Regions from separate parts of the Homo sapiens genome. Here region 2 is linked to region 1. Evidence: fine-mapped expression QTL. Tissue or cell type: monocytes. Region 1 holds a variant in brackets; the other region holds the start of a gene. All regions are shown on one strand. Distances are between the middles of the regions.

Region 1 (8,181 bases):
ACTAACCAGGAAAACATTGACCTGCTAAAAACATAGAATCAGTGAAACTACTCAGGAAATACTTGCTATGACAGATTACTCTCTCTGTTAAAGGGTCCCATGTAGAGACATTTCTATGAATATTGAACAGTTAACAAAAAACTGAGACTGGGGGAGTGACAGACAATTCAGATTACAAAGCAAAAGCAACATAGGATTCAGATAAATACGATACCATGGTGAAACAAAATCTTTAAAGCACAAATGGTTTTGAATGTAGAAGCTCATATTTCACTAACTATTCACTGATGCGTAGTCCACTTTTCAGCAGTGATCTCCAATCAGTCCCTCCTTTCACAGAAGCCAGCGCAGGAGGCGCACGCGTCGCTTCCCGCCCCGCACTTCACCGCCCCAGCCCGTCCTGGCTGCCACCCGCCGTCCCTGAGAAACGCTCAGACGCTTCTCTCTCTCTTTTTAAAATTATACTTTAAGTTCTGGGGTACATGTGCAGAACCTGCAGGTTTGTTACATAGGTATACACGTGCCATGGTGGTTTGCTGCACCCATCAACCAGTTATCTACATTACGTATTTCTCCTGATGCTATCCCTCCCCTGGCCCCCCACCCCCGACAGGCCCCGGTGTGTGATGTTCTCCTCCCATTGTCCATGGTTTTTATTTTATTATTATTTTTTGAGACGGAGTCTCGCTCTATCGCCCATGCTGGAGTGCAGTGGCACCATCTCGGGTTCAAGCGATTCTCCTGCCTCAGCCTCCTGAGTAGCTGGGATTACAGGCATGCGCCGCCACGCCCGGCTATTTTTTTTTTTTTTTTTTTTTTTTTTTTTTTTTGTATTTTTAGTAGAGACGAGGTTTCACCATGTTGGCCAGTCTGGTCTCGAACTCCTGACCTCGTGATTCGCCCGCCTCGGCCTCCCAAAGTGTTGGGATTACAGGCGGGAGCCGCCGCGCCCGGCCTCAGACGTTTTTCTCTAGGTAAAGCCGCGGGATGAACCAGCCCCTGTGGAAATTTAGAAGTAACGACGTCCGTCAATTTCTGTATGAAAAATATACAGATCGTGTGACACGTCTTCTGGGAATGAAAGTCTGCTAAACTCGCCGTCACGAGTAGATGAACACATTTAAAGTTTGTAGTTAAGAGGAAAACAACGCCAACGACACAAATGCCCCAAGCGCTGGATGAAGCAGCGACCTAGGATGGGGCTGGCCTGGAACGGGAACCAAGACGCCCGCCCGGACGAAAACGAGCAGGGAAACCCGGGCCGGGGTCGGCCGCCCCACACGACGCACTGCGCAGAGACCACGCGGCTCCGGGTCTCGCCTGCGCCGGCGCATCCCTCGCAGACGCGCTCCTCCCACGCGAGGGCCCCTTCCCCGAAGCGCACGCCTAAGACTGCGCGCCGCAGCCCGCCCTGTCTAGCTGAGGCGCAGACCCGGATGGGTCCCAGAGGGGCGGGTCGGGGCGGAGAGCCGCGCCCAAAGGCAATGGGAGCCGCACGCTGCTAGGCAACATGCTGTCTCCCGGCAACGTAGAGGCGGGGAATTCGCCAACGTGTCTGAAACAGACAACAATTTTAGCCAACGGCTGCGTGGGCCTTGGGCGTCCTGGCCAATGGGAATAGTGAGGGGCCTGTCACTAAGAAACCTGTCCCTGAGCAACGCATAGGAGGGGTGGAACCCAGCAGCGCTGACTGAGCCGCCGCGAAGTGCCGGAACGTATTACCTGGGAGCCAAATTTCAGAGCGTCGTTTGTCTTCCCAAGCCCACCAGCTTTCAGCGTTCTCCAGCCTCGCCACACCCCCGCCTCGGGCCGTCCCCGCCCAGACGCTTGTCCCCGCGAGAAGCTGAGCGCACTGAAGTGAGCCCGGCGGCTGCCGCCGGAGGAGGAGCCCGGCTCTGGACACGGCCGTCAGGAAGCTCAGAGGCTGCAGCACCGCTTCTGCGTTGATTTCCGCTTGACTTTTACTCTTTTCTTGGGTTAAAAATCAAACGCCGACCCGAGGCGTCAGAGATGGGCGGTCGTTAGGCGCAGTGGCGGCCCCCGGATGTTTGCGATGGGACGGCGGGCTCGGAACGTGTGGACGTGGGCTTTGGAGGTGCGAGCCCCATTGGGCCAGGGCTGGGTCCGGGCAGTGGTACGGGGTCTCAGCTGTCCGTCACAGGAGATGTGCAGGCCTCGTCATCTGGGGTCTTACGTGTCAGTGATGTGGGGTCTGCCGGGTCAGTGAGGGGGTCTGTGAGGTCACTAGTGGGAGGCCACTCCCAAAGTGATTCCCCTCTGTCCCACCTGCTTCCCTGAGAAAAGCTCACTTATCCTTCACCAGGATTTAAAAATATATATCCTAAGACCAACCTGTAATATTTTTTTCTTTTTTGGAGACAGGGTCTCTTTCTGTCACCCAGGCTGGAGTGCAGTGCCACAATCTCATTGCAACCTCTGCCTCCTGGGCTCAGGCAATCCTCCCACTTCAGCCTCCCGAGTAGCTGGGACTACAAGTGTGTGTCACCACACTCAGCTAATTTTTAAATTTTTTATAGAGACGAGGTCTCACTCTATTGCCCAGACTGGTCTCAAGCGAGCCTCCTGCCTTAGCCTCCCAAAGTGCTGGGATTACAGGCATGAGCCACCGCGCCCACCCAATATTCTCTTTTTCATGGACCTTGTTTAGTTGCACTAAAAAAAAATTAATATATTTTATTTTTGTTTAGAGCGTGTTGGGTTTACAGAAAAATCAACTGGAAAGAACAAGGAGTTCCCCCCATCCCTTTCTACCTTAGTGTTCCCCTTATGTTCTACCATAGTGTTTCCCCTATATTTACGTTTCATATTACTCTGGTACATTTGTTACAACTGATACACCAATATTAATATATTATTATTAACTGAAGTTTATAGTTTACTTTTTTTTTTTTTTTGAGTCGGAGTCCCGCTCTGTTGCCCAGGCTGGAGTGCAATGGCACGATCTCGGCTCACTGAAACCTCTGCCTCCCGGGTTGAAGCAATTCTCTTGCCTCAGCCTCCCAAGTAGCTGGGATGATAGGTGCCCGCCATCACGCCCGGCTAATTTTTGTATTTTTAGTAGAGACGGGGTTTCACCATATTGGCCAGGCTGGTCTCTTGGCCCGGCTGGTCTTGAACTCCTGACCTTGTGATCCACCCGTCTCAGCCTCCCAAAGTGCTGGGATTACAGGCGTGAGCCACCACGCCTGGCCCTTTTTTTTTTTTTTCCTGACGGAGTCTTGCTCTTGTTGCCCAGGCTGGAGTGCAATGGCGCGATCTCGGCCCCATGCAACCTCCACCTCCCGCGTTCAAGTGATTCTTCTGCCTCAGCCTCCCAAGTAGCTGGGATTACAGGCATGTGCCACCAC[G/T]CCTGGCCACAAGTTTTAAATTTTAATGAAGTTCAACTTATCAGTTTTTTGTTTCACAGATTGTACTTTTGGTATGGTATCTGAGAAAATATCACTAAACCCAGGATCACCTAGATTTTCTTCTGTGCTGTCTTCCAGGAGTTGTATAGTTTTGCATTTCACATTCAGGTCTTTGATCCATTTTGAGTTAGTTTCTGTGAAAGGTATAAGGTCTTTGTCTAGATTCACATTTTTGCCTGTGGATGTCCAGTTTTTCCAGCACCATTTGCTAAAAAGACTATCCTTTCTCCATTGCATTGCCCTTGCTCCTTTGTCAAACATCAGTTGACTATATTTGTGTGGCGCTGCTTCTGGGCTCTTTATTCTGCCCCACTGACCTCTTTGTCCATTCTTCTGCCAGTATCAGAGTGTCTCCATTACTATCGCTTTATAGGAAATTTTGAAGTTGGGTAGTGTCAGCTCCCCAACATTGCTCTTCTCCTTCAATACTGTGTTGACTATTCTGGGTCTATTTCTAATCTAGCAATGGAAGTTTTGCATTTCATTAGTCTTTATTTATTTATTTATTTCAGACAGCGTCTCACCCTGTCGCCCAGGCTGGAGTGCAACGGCACAATCTCGGCTCACTGCAACCTCCACCTCCAGGGTTCAAGCAATTCCCCTGCCTCAGCTTCCCAAGTAGCTGGGATTACAGGCACACACCACCACACCTGGCTAATTTTTTGCATCTTTGGTAGAGACGGGGTTTCACCATGTTGGCCAGGCTGGTCTTGATCTCCTGACCTCGTGATCCATCTGCCTTGGCCTCCCAAAGTACTGGGATTACAGGCGTTAGCCACCGCGCCCTGCCTCACTAGTCTTTTCAAGAAAGAAGCTTTTAGATGTGGATTTATTATCTGTTAATTCTCATTTTCATCTTCATTATTTCCTTTTTGCTACTTTTATTTGGATATTTTCTAGGATTCTTCCTAATCTCTTGGGTTGGATGCTTAACACTTACATTTCCATTGATCCTGTTTTCCTAATAGAGGCATTTGGGGTAATGCATTTTCCAGTAAGTGCCACTTTAGATTATATCCCATTTTGTGTGGTGTCCTATATCAGTTAAACCCACCGTATTCATTGTATAAATCAAATTTTTCATATACTTACTGTATTAGTCCATTTTCACGCTGCTGATAAAGACATACCCAAGACTGAGTAATTTATAAAGTAAAAGAGGTTTAATGGACTCACAGTTCCATGTGGCTGGGGAGGCCTCATAATCATGGTGGGTGAAAGGCACTTCTGACATGCTGGTGGCAAGAGAGAATCAGAGCACCAAGCAAAAAGGAAACCCCTTGTCAAATCACCAGATCTCATGAGACTTATTCACTACCATGAGAACAGTATCAGGGAAACCACTCCCAAGATTCAGTTATCTCCCACTGGGTCCCTCCCACAATATGTGGGAATTGTGGGAGCTGCAATTCAAGATGAGATTTGGGTGGGGACATAGCCAAAACAAGTTATCTCCCACCAGGTCCCTCCCACATGTGGGAATTAAGGGAGCTGCAATTCAAGAAGAGATTTGGGTGGGGACACAGCCAAACCAGATCACTTACCAATTATGTGCTGTCCTGCTCTATCAATTCCTAAGAAAAGTGTGCAAAAATTTCCAAATGGTAATGTGGATTTGTAGTTTATTCCTCTAATTGTCCTATTTTGTATAATACATTCTTTGGTCTATGTTAATTTGAAATTTTGAACATAGAATCATTATATCTTCATAGAAAATTGTACTTTTATCCTTATATAATGACCCTTTTTATTCCTAACGATGGTTTCCCTAAAGCTTATGTTACCCAATTAATGTTTGCCAGGTATATATTTTTCCACTCATACTCACTTTTTATAACATTTTTATGCATTTATTTTATAAACATATACATGGAATATTTTAAAGCATAATGCGACATTCTGCTTTTAAACCGATGAGTTTATATGATTTGTGATTATTGATACAGTTGGCTGGGTGCGGTGGCTCACGCCTGTAATCCCAGCATTTTGGGAAGCCGAGGTGGGCAGATTACTAGGTCAGGAGATCGAGACCATCCTGGCTAACATGGTGAACCCCCATCTCTACTAAAAATACAAAAAATTAGCCGGGTGTGGTGGTGGGTGCCTGTAATCCCAGCTACTCAGGAGGCTGAGGCAGGAGAATGGCGTGAACCCGTGAGGCAGAGCTTGCAGTGAGCCAAGATGGCACCACTGCACTCCAGCCTGGGCGACAGAGCGAGACTCCGTCTCAAAAAAAAAAAAAAAAAAAAAAAAGATTATTGATACAGTTATGTTTATTTCTATCATTTTACTTTTTGCTTTCCATTGGCCTTGTGTTTTTTGTCCCTTATTATTTTCTATCTTCTTTTGGATTTAATCAAGCTTTCTCACTTCCATTTTCAATATCTATTCTTTAAGTGTTAATGTTAAGGTGTTTGCTATGTATACAAGACTTAACAAAGTCTAAAGGTAATCACTTAATCTGCTCTCTCCATAACCAACAGAGAGGCATCCCAATTTTTTTTTTTTTTTTGAGGCAGAGTTTTGCTCTTCTTGCCCAGGCTGGAGTGCGATGGCGCGATCTCAACTCACTGCAACCTCTTCCTCCCAGGTTCAAGCATTTCTCCTGCCTCAGCCTCCTGAGTAGCTGGGATGACAGGTGCCTGACACCACGCCCAGCTAATTTTTGTATTTTTAGTAGAGACTGGGGTTTCTCCATGTTGGTCGGGCTGGTCTCGAACTCCTGACCTCAGGTGATCCACCAGCCTCGGCCTCCCAAAGTGCTGGGATTACAGGTGTGAGCCACCACGCCTGGCTCCAATTTTTTTTTTTTTTTTTTTGAGACAGAGTTTTCACTCTTGTTGCCCAGGCTGGAATGCAGTGGCACAGTCTTGGCTCACTACAACTTCCACCTCCCAGGTTCAAGCGATTCTCCTGCCTCAGCCTCCCAAGTAGCTGGAATTACACACACCCACCACCACAGCTGGCTAATTTTTTGTATTTAGTAGAGAGAGGGTTTCACCATGTTGGTCTGGCTGGTCTGGAATTCCTGACCTCAGGTGATCTGTCTGCCTTGGCCTCCCAAAGTGCTGGGATTACAGGCGTGAGCCACTGCACCCAGCGTCCCAACATTTTTATCTCTGATCATCCTGAACACATACCATGTTACTCACTGTTTTAGTTCTGCGTTATTTTTGTTGCATAACCAGTAACATAACATTATTATTGTTAGTTTACATAGCCAATACTAGTTTAGGTTCACATGTATTACCTCTTGGCTTCACCCACTACTTTTCTCTGATGGCAATCTTTGGAAGTTCCTTCATTGAGGGTTTATTAGTGGTAAACTCTTTATCTTTGCTGTGGTGCAGTGTCTAGAATTTTTGTTAAGTGAAGGTTTTACATTTAAATCTTCATCTATTAAGTTTGAATATGGGATGAGTTATGGATTGAGGTTCATTTGTTTTGTATATTGACTTTCAATTGTTGCAGCACCATTTTTTTAAACCACTATTTTCATTGATTTGCCCTTGCAACTTTGTCAAAAATCAATTGACCATATACACGAAGGTCTATTTATGTATTCTCAATTATGGTCCATGATCTATGTGTTTATCCTTTCTCTGACACAATGTTTAGATTGCTGTATCTTTACAGTAAGTTTCGAAGTCAGGGAGTGCGAGTCTTCCAGCTCTGTTCCTCTTTGACAAAAGATGTTTTGGCTATTCTAGTTTCTTCTGCTTTTCCAAATAAATTTGATTAACTTGTTAATGTCTACAAAAACTCCTGCTGGAATTTCCATTGGGATCGCAATAAATTTATAGGTAAATCTAGAGAGAACTGACATTCTACTATTTATTGTTCCAAACCACAAATATGATACATATTTCCATTTATTTAGGATTTGGATTTCCCTTATTTCTCTCATAAGCGTTTTGACGTTTTCAACATACAGATCTTTTATAACAACACTTACCCACTTCCCACCATTCTACCCCCATTCCTAAACCTTGGCAACACAAGAATCTGTCCTCCATTAAAAATGTTATGATTTCAGAAATGTTATATAAATGGAATAATACAATATGCAACCTTATGGGACTGATTTCTTGCATTTGGTGTACTTCTCTAGAGATTAATCCAAGTTTTTGTGTGTATCAGTAGTCCATTTATTTTCCTGAATAGCATTCCATATGTGTGTGCCACAATTTGTTTAACCATTTACCTTATTCTCAGTTTTTGGCTGTTCAAATAAACTGATATTAATCTGTGTACAGGTTTTGGTGAGAAAATATATTTATCTGGGATAAATCCCCAAAAGTGCAATTGCTAGGTTATATGGTAATTTGATGTTTAATTCATAAGAAACTGCCAAACTGTTTTCTAGAATTGCTGTACCATTTTCCACTCCCACTGGTAATGTATTAGTGATACAGCTTCTATGTACCCTCAACATTTGATGGTGTCACTATTTTTTTTTTTTTTTTTTTTAGACAGAGTCTTGCTCTGTTGCCCAGGCTGGAGTGCAATGGCGTGTCTTGGCTCACTGCAACCTCCGCCTCCAGGTACAAGCAGTTCTCTGCCTCAGCCTCCCGAGTAGCTGGGATTACAGGTGCGCACCACCATGCCTGGCTAATTTTTGTATTTTTAGTAGAGATGGAGTTTCACCATCTTGGCCAGGCTGGTCTCGAACTCCTGACCGCGTGATCCACCCGCCTCAGCCTCCCAAAGTGCTGGGCTTACAAGCATGAGCCACTGCACCCAGCCGCTGTCA
Region 2 (8,181 bases), 24 kb before region 1:
ATTGCACTCCAGCCTGAGAAATAGGAGTGAAACTCCGTCTCAAAAAAAAAAAAAAAAAGACTGGGCGCAGTGGCTCACGCCTCTAATCCCAGCACTTTGGGAGGCCGAGGCGGGTGGATCATGAGGTCAGGAGATCAAGACCATCCTGGCTAACATGGTGAAACCCTGTCTCTACTAAAAATACAAAAAAAATTAGCCGGGCATGGTGGCGGGTGCCTGTAGTCCCAGCTACTTGGGAGGTTGAGGCAGGAGAATGGTGTGAACCCAAGAGGCAGAGCTTGCAGTGAGCCGAGATCGTGCCACTGCACTCCAGACTGGATAAAGAGCTCTTTGGGAAAACAAGGTTGTTGCACCCCTTCCTACACGTTACCTAGGCTTTCCCTTTTCCCCCAAATAATGCCTTATAAATGGCAGGCACATCATTGCTTTAAAATAATCAAGTTCTGTCTGGGCGAGGTGGCTCATGGCTGTAATCCCAACGCTTTGGGAGGCCAAGGCAGGTGGATCATTTGATTTGAGGCCAGGAGTTCAAGACCAGCCTGACCAACATGGTAAAACCTCATCTCTACTAAAAATACCAAAAAACTAGCCAGGTGTGGTGGCACACGCCTGAAATCTCAGCTAGTCTGGAGGCTCAGGCAGGAGAATCACTTTAACCTGGAAGATGCAGGTTGTAGTGAGTGAAGATCGCACCACTGCACTCCAGCCTGGGTGACAGAGTAAGACTCCGTCTCAAAAAATAAATATATCAGGCCGGGCACAGTGGCTCACGCCTGTAATCCCAGCACTTTGGGAAGCCGAGGCGGGTGGATCACCTGAGGTCAGGAGTTCAAGACCAGCCTGACGAACATGGAGAAACCCCGTCTCTACTAAAAATACAAAAAGTAGCTGAGCGTGGTAGCACATACTTGTAATCCCAGCTACTCGGGAGGCTGAGGCAGGAGAATTGCTTGAACCCGGGAGGTTGGAGGTTGAGCCAAGAAGGCACCACTGCACTACAGCCTGGGCAATAAGAGCAAAACTCCGTCTCAAAAAAAAAAATACATATATATATATAAAATAAATAAATAAAATAATCAAGTTCTACAACTGTTAGGAACTGAATGTTTGTAACTGAGTGTCTGTACCCCCCTAAAATTCATATATTTAAGTCCTAATCCCCAATGTGACTGTATTTGGAAATGGGGCCTGTGAGCTGATAAATGTTAAATGAGGTCACTAGGTGGGAATCAGATGTCACAGGGCTGGTGCCCTCTTAAGAGGAGGCAGAGAGAGCAAGCAGAGTCCCCCTCTCTGCCATGTGAGGACACAGCAAGAAAGTGGCCACCTGCAAGCCAAGAGAGCCCTCACCAGGAACCCAATCTGCCAACACCTTGATCTTGGACTTCCCAGCCTCCTGAACCATGAAAATAAATTTCTGGCCAGGCACAGTGGCTCACACCTGTAATCCTAGCACTTTGAGAGGCCGAGGCAGACAGATTGCTGGAGCTCAGGAGTTCGAGACCAGCCTGGGCAACACAGTGAAACCCCATCTCTACTAAAATAGAAAAAAATAAGCCAGGTGTGGTGGTACGTGCCTGTAGTCCCAGCTACTCGGGAGGCTGAGGCAGGAGAATCGCTTGAACCTGGAAGAGGGAAGTTGCAGTGAGCCGAGATCATGCCACTGCACTCCAGCCTGGGTGACAGAGCAGGACTCTATCTCAAAAATTAAAAAAATAAAATAAAATAAAAAATAAATTTCTGGCCGGGCGCGATAGCTCACGCCTGTAATCCCAGCACTTTGGGAGGCTGAGGCAGGCAGATCACGAGGTCAGGAGATTGAGACCATCCTGGCTAACATGGTGAAACCCCGTCTCTACTAAAAATACAAAATACCACTGCCAGGCGTGGTGGTGGGCGCCTGTAGTCCCAGCTACTCGGGAGGCTGAGGCAGAAGAATGGCAAGAACCCGGGAGGTGGAGCTTGCAGTGGGCCGAGATCGCGCCACTGCACTCCAGCCTGGGTGATAGAGTGAGACTCTGTCTCAAAAAATATATAAATAAATAAATAAATAAATAAATAAATAAATAAATTTCTGTTGCTTAAGCCACCCAGAATGTAGTATTTTGCTATGGTAGTATGAACAAACTAATACAATAATCTTAAAGTTTTTGCTGGCAACATTATTTATAAATTCACTAAAATCGTTCCTATTAAAAGATAAACTCAACGACATATTTTCTCTCCTTGTCTTAACATGTAATGTCCTACCATGTAATAACATGTATAACATGTTACAATAACAATGGCTAATGCTAAGTGCTAACGCTAAAGTTCCTTCTAAGCAGTCCGTGTATGATCTCATTAACTCCTCAGAGCAAATCTATGAAGTAGGTACATAGGCGCAGAAAGATGTCGTTAGCCCAGAGTAATGTGTTGACAGATTGGAAACCCACATAATTTGTCTCTAGGGCCTCTGCTCTTCACCAAACCTCCTAGTCTATCAAGTAAAGACAAAGGGAAAAATCTTCAAATACTTCCTCTTGTCTTAAAGGGATAATTTTGATATGTTATGATGATATCTAAATACTTTCAAAGTTGTAAAATAAACTTTGACTTGATACTGGAATGTAAGACTACCAAAACACCCCAAAAAACAAAACCAGGTCAGACACAGTGGTTCACACCTGTAATCCCAGCACTTTCGGAGGCCGAAGCAGGTGAATCACTTTAGTTCAGTTGTTCAAGACCAGCCTGGGCAATATGGCGAAAGCTCATCTCTACTAAAAATACAAAAATTAGCCAGGCATGGTGGCGCACGCCTGTAGTCCCAGCTACTCCGAGGCTGAGGCGGGAGAATCACTTGAACCGGGAGGCAGAGGGTGCAGTGAGCTGAGATCACACCACTGCACCCCAGTCTGGGCCACAGAGCAAGACTCTTATCTCAAAAAAACAAACAAAAAAACAAAAAAAACCAGGTGCAAGCACATTATAAGGGGTGAAATTAACCAAAAAAAAAAAAAAAATTGCTTCCAAACAGCAAATATTTCCCATCCTCGCTCCTTTTTAGAGTATAATGTCGGAGCTAATTCATTAATTTTCAGACAAACTAAACATTTTTGTTGACAGGACCAGCGCATTTCTCTCCCCATACAAAGGCTTCAGAGGAAATCAAACAACCAGATGGTCACTTGGGAGACTGGAGGCAGTGAATGTGGAGGCTGAGGGAACTTTCTCTCACCCGTTGTATGACTTTGTTCAAGTTTTTAGCTTTCCAGGTTTATTAAATAAATAAATATTCTAGGGGCTGGGACTTGAGATCTTTTTTAATATAAGCACTACAGCTATAAATTTCCCTCTGAGTACTGCCTTGGCTGCATCCTAAATACCTTTTGGTGTATTCTATTTTTGTTTCATTTGTCTCAAAACAAGGTCCCCGTTGTAAAGACTTATTTGACCCACCGGTTGCTTTAAGAGTGTGGTGTTTCATGTCCACATATCTGTGAATTTTCCACTTTTCCTTCTATTATTTTTAATTTCGTTCCATTACAGTCAGAAAAGATACTCTGTACGGCAACGAACGTGACAATATTGCATTCTGGAGAGTATATGAACACAACTAACTTATACAGTTGTAACGAAGGCTAAATGATGTGCGTGAATCATGCGCAAGAATCGGTGGGCAGAACACCGAATAAATACCAGTTCTTACATGACATTTCACTCCACGGAAAAATCTGGAGCGCACACTGCACCGCCGCCCGTGTGGCCTGCCCGCAACCCGGTGGCTCTGCCCGGCCCCGGCCCCCGGCCCCGGCCTCAGCCCCGCACCTCGTCTCCGCCCGATGGTCCACTCCCGCTTCCTCAGGAGGACGTGCGGCTCGCCCTCCTCCGCGCCCAGACGCAGGAGCCGTCCCCAGGGCTGCGGCGGCGGCGACTGCTTGCCTTCCTCGGGCCGCTCCATCGGGATTCACATCTGCGGAGACCCCGGAAACGCCCATGGAGACTCCCGACCCCAGAGGCCGAGACTCGGCGCCCGCCCCACCCCGCGGGCCCCGGCCCGGCCGCCCGCGCCCACGCAGCCCCGCAGCCCGGCCTGGACGCCGGCGGGCGCCCCCTCCCACGGCCGCAACCAGGTCCCCCTTCGCCGCCCGCCGCAGCCCCCTCGCCAGCCGCGCTTACCCCCGCCCCGCGCCGAACCCGGAACCGGCTGCGCCGCCGCCGCTGTCAAGAGACATTGCGGCTCCCTCAGCTGATCCGCGGGGCGGGGCCAGAGGCCTCTGCGCCCCGCGATTGGCTGGCGGCGGCGCTCACCAAGAGCGGCAGCTAAAGCGGAGCCGGGAGTGGCCCGCGAGAGTAGGCGCGTGGAGGGCGCTCGGCCATCTTTGATCCTGACCAGGCGACTTCGTCGCCTGCGGATCACGGAAGTGGCTGCGGTCGGCGCCATGTTATGTTGGGGCAGAAGGGACGGGGAACTTCCGGATTGGAAGCCCCAAGGATTCTGAGAGCCCCGCTAATCTGGGGATGACTCCTAGGAGTAGAAGACGGTCCATCTTAGTTGTCACGAGGTAGTGCACGTGGGGACCCTTTCGGGTACAGTTGCACACAGTGGATCACACAGATCCGAAGTCTGAGGCACAGGGCGCGGTCCGCGAGTGGGAGCGGCTGCTTGTGGGCAGGGTGGACGCGGGGCCACGTCTTGGCCGGCGTTTTGCGGGGTCTTCCTGTTCTGAACGCGCGTAACTTTTGCCTCAGTATCTCACTTCTTGGAATCCGGCGGCGTTCACGTGTGTGCTCCAGAGAAGGGCGCCAGAGGGTATTCCCTGAAAGTGAAAGGTCGGCGAAAGAGGAGTAAAGACGGCGAGACGCGTCCACGCAGGGGGAGTCTGTGCGGTTTGGAGGAACGCGCCAATGTCTGCACTCATGAGGAGCCCCCAAGGGCGGTTTTAAGAGGGTGAAGCAGGACCGGGCGCAGTGACTTACGCCTGTAATCTAAGTGCTTTGGAAGGCCTAGGCAGGAGGATCTCGAGCCCAGGAGTTCGAGATTAGCCTGAGACCTCATCGCTACCAAAATAAATAAAGTAGGCATCCATTTGTGTAAAACAAACCATATATACACACATATATACATATATAAACATTTGTATATATAGGTATAGGCATAGTTATCTATACCTTGTAAACCAAAAATAAAATTGTAAGCCTCCCCAACCAACTGAATGAACTGAGTCTCTCAACGCCAAAGTTAATCTGAAAAACCAGTTCAGTCCCTGATGGGAAGCAGGGTTTGGATATGTCCCATTATACTGTCCTCCCTTTGGAATTCAGGTATAACTGACCAGCGTCGACGTTAAAACAGACAACTTAAGGCTGACCAAACGGTCTGTAGCATTAAGATACATCACATGACAAATAGCAGGCCCTGGAAGAAAACGAAGTATTTTACCCTGACATGTATTTATTTAACATAGTTTTACGTAGCCCTGCAAAACTGTCTCCTGGGGGAAATCTACTTTGTAGAGAATCTCCTTCCTTTTCCACATCTTTTCCTGATCCAGGAGAGAATGTAAGACTCTGGCACCTTTTTAACTCTGATAAGAAAAGTTTACCATCTATTCTCTCTGAAGCCTGCTGCCTGGAGCGGCATCTGCATTAGAATGGCCAGAGTGGTGGTGCTCAAGCCTGTAATCCTAGCACTTTGGGAGGCCGAGGTGGGTGGATCGCTTGAGCCCAGGAATTCAGACCATCCTGGGCAACATGGGGAGACCCCGTCTTAGCTGGACATGATGACAGCACATGCCTATAGTCCCAGCTATTCAGGAGGCTGAGGTGGGCAGATTCCTTGAGCCCGGGAGGACAAGGCTGCGGTAAACCACAGTCTGTGCCACTGCAATCCAGCCTGGGCAACAGAGACCCTGTCAAAAAAAAAATAACAAAATAGAAACTTTGTCTCCCTTAGCTTAACCCAGACAATCCTTTCTATTGATTCCAGGTCTTTAGATAATAACAACTCTTTCAACCAAGTGCCAATCAGAAAATCTTTGAATCCATCTATGAACTTTCTCCCTAAAAGGTGTAAAACCGGCTGGGCGCAGTGGCTCACGTCTGTAATCCCAGCAGTTTGGGAGGCTGAGGCAGGTGGATCATGTCAGGCCTCTGAACCTAAGCTAAGCCATCGCATCCCCTGTGACCTGCATGTATATATATGCCTAGATGGCCTGAAGTAACTGAAGAATCACAAAAGAAGTGAAAATGGCCTGTTCCTGCCTTAGCTGATGACATTCCACTACAAAAGAAGTGAAAATGGCCGGTCCTTGCCTTAACTGATGACATTACCTTGTGAAATTCCTTCTCCTGGCTCATCCTGGCTCAAAAAGCTCCCTCATTGAGCACCTTGTGACCCCCACCCCTGCCCACCAGAGAACAACCCCCCTTTGACTGTAATTTTCGTTTACCTACTTAAATCTTATAAAACGGCCCCACTACCCCTATCTGCCCTTTGCTGACTCTCTTTTCGGACTCAGCCCGCCTACACCCAGGTGAGTAAAAAACTTTATTGCTCACACAAAGCCTGTTTGATCGTCTCTTCACATGGACGCGAGTGAAATTTGGTGCCGTGACTCGGATCGGGAGACCTCCCTTGGGAGATCAATCCCCTGTCCTACTCTTTGCTCCGTGAGAAAGATCCACCTACGACCTCAGGTCCTCAGACCAACCAGCCCAAGGAACATCTCACCAATTTTAAATCGGGTAATGGCCTCTTTTCACTCTCTTCTCCCACCTCTCTCACTATCCTTCAACCTCTTTCTCCTTTCAATCTTGGTGCCACACTTTAATCTCTCCCTACTCTTAATTTCAGTTCCTTTCCTTTTCTGGTAGAGACAAAGGAGACGCGTTTTATCCATGAACCCAAAATTCCGGCGCCGGTCATGGACTCGGGAAGACAGTCTTCCCTTGGTGTTTAATCGCGCAGGGACGCCTGCCTGATTATTCACCCACGTTTCAGAGGTGTCTGACCATGCAGGGACGCCTGCCTTGGTCCTTCACCCTTAGTGGCAAGTAATGCTTTTTTGGGGGGCAAGAACCCCCCAACCCCTTCTCTCCGTGTCTCTACCCCTTCTTCACTTTCCTGGGTGGCAAGCACCCCCCACCCCCTTCTCTCCATGTCTCTACCCTCTCTTTTCTCTGGGCTTGCCTCCTTCACTATGGGCAAACTTCCACCCTCCATTCCTCCCTCTTCTCCATTAGCCTGTGTTCTCAAAAACTTAAAACCTCTTCAACTCACACCTGACCTAAAACCTAAACGCCTTGTTTTCTTCTGCAACACCGCTTGGCCCCAATACAAACTTGACAATGGCTCTAAATAGCCAGAAAACGGCACTTTCAACTTCTCCATTCTACAAGACCTAAATAATTTTTGTCAAAAAATAGGCAAATGATCTGAGGTGCTTTACATCCAGGCATTTTTCACACTTCGTTCCCTCCCTAGTCTCTGTTCCCAATGCGATTCCTCCCAAATCCTCCTTCTCTCCCTCCTGCCTGTTCCCTCAGTCCCAACCCCAAGCGTCGCTGAGTCTTTCCAGTCTTCCTTTTCTACAGACCCATCTGACCTCTCCCCTCCTCCCCAGGCTGCTCGTCGCCAGGCCAAGCTAAGTCCCAATTCTTCCTCAGCCTCCGCTCCTCCACCCTATAATCTTTCTGTCACCTCCCCTCCTCACACCCGGTCCGGCTTACAGTTTAGTTCCTTGACTAGCTCTTCCCCACCTGCCCAACAATTTCCTCTTAGAGAGGTGGCTGGAGCTGAAGGCATAGTCAGGGTACATGTGCCTTTTTCTCTATCAGACCTCTCTCAGATCAGTCAACATTTAGGCTCTTTCTCATCAGACCCCACTAAACATATACAGGAATTCCGATATCTAACTTTGTCCTACAAGTTAACCTGGAGTGACCTAAATGTCATCCTGACTTCTACCCTCTCCCCAGATGAACGGGAAAGAGTTTTTTCTCTAGCCCAATCTCACGCTGATAACCACCGGCTTCACGAGCCATACCTCCAGGAAGGCATCAGAGCAGTTCCCCGAGAGGATCCCCAATGGAACTATCAGGCAGATTCCCCAGGTACAGCTAGGCAAGATTACATGATTTCCTGCCTAGTTGAAGGGCTTAAAAAGGCAGCTTACAAACCTGTTAATTATGACAAGC

The links. PIP is the estimated chance that this variant, and not a neighbour inherited with it, causes the effect.
Region 2: it holds the start of CHFR, and the variant in region 1 is fine-mapped to the expression of CHFR in monocytes (TOPMed, PIP above 0.99).

The regions. Positions count from the first base shown.
Region 1 is chr12:132,907,054-132,915,234 of GRCh38, forward strand. LOC124903065 (a long non-coding RNA gene) reads left to right here and starts at 1,615. Exons shown (of 2, transcript XR_007063553.1): 1 at 1,615-2,095; 2 at 3,941-7,679. RefSeq lists a silencer at 1,339-1,388. The variant G/T (reference allele first, on the strand shown) is at 3,369.
Region 2 is chr12:132,883,386-132,891,566 of GRCh38, forward strand. CHFR (checkpoint with forkhead and ring finger domains) reads right to left here and starts at 4,220. Exons shown (of 18, transcript NM_001161346.2): 1 at 4,162-4,220; 2 at 3,811-3,955. The coding sequence starts at 3,943. CHFR-DT (CHFR divergent transcript) reads left to right here and starts at 4,457. Exons shown (of 2, transcript NR_110919.1): 1 at 4,457-4,547; 2 at 4,735-5,186. RefSeq lists a silencer at 4,077-4,196 and enhancers at 4,267-4,676, 5,013-5,815, 5,816-6,616.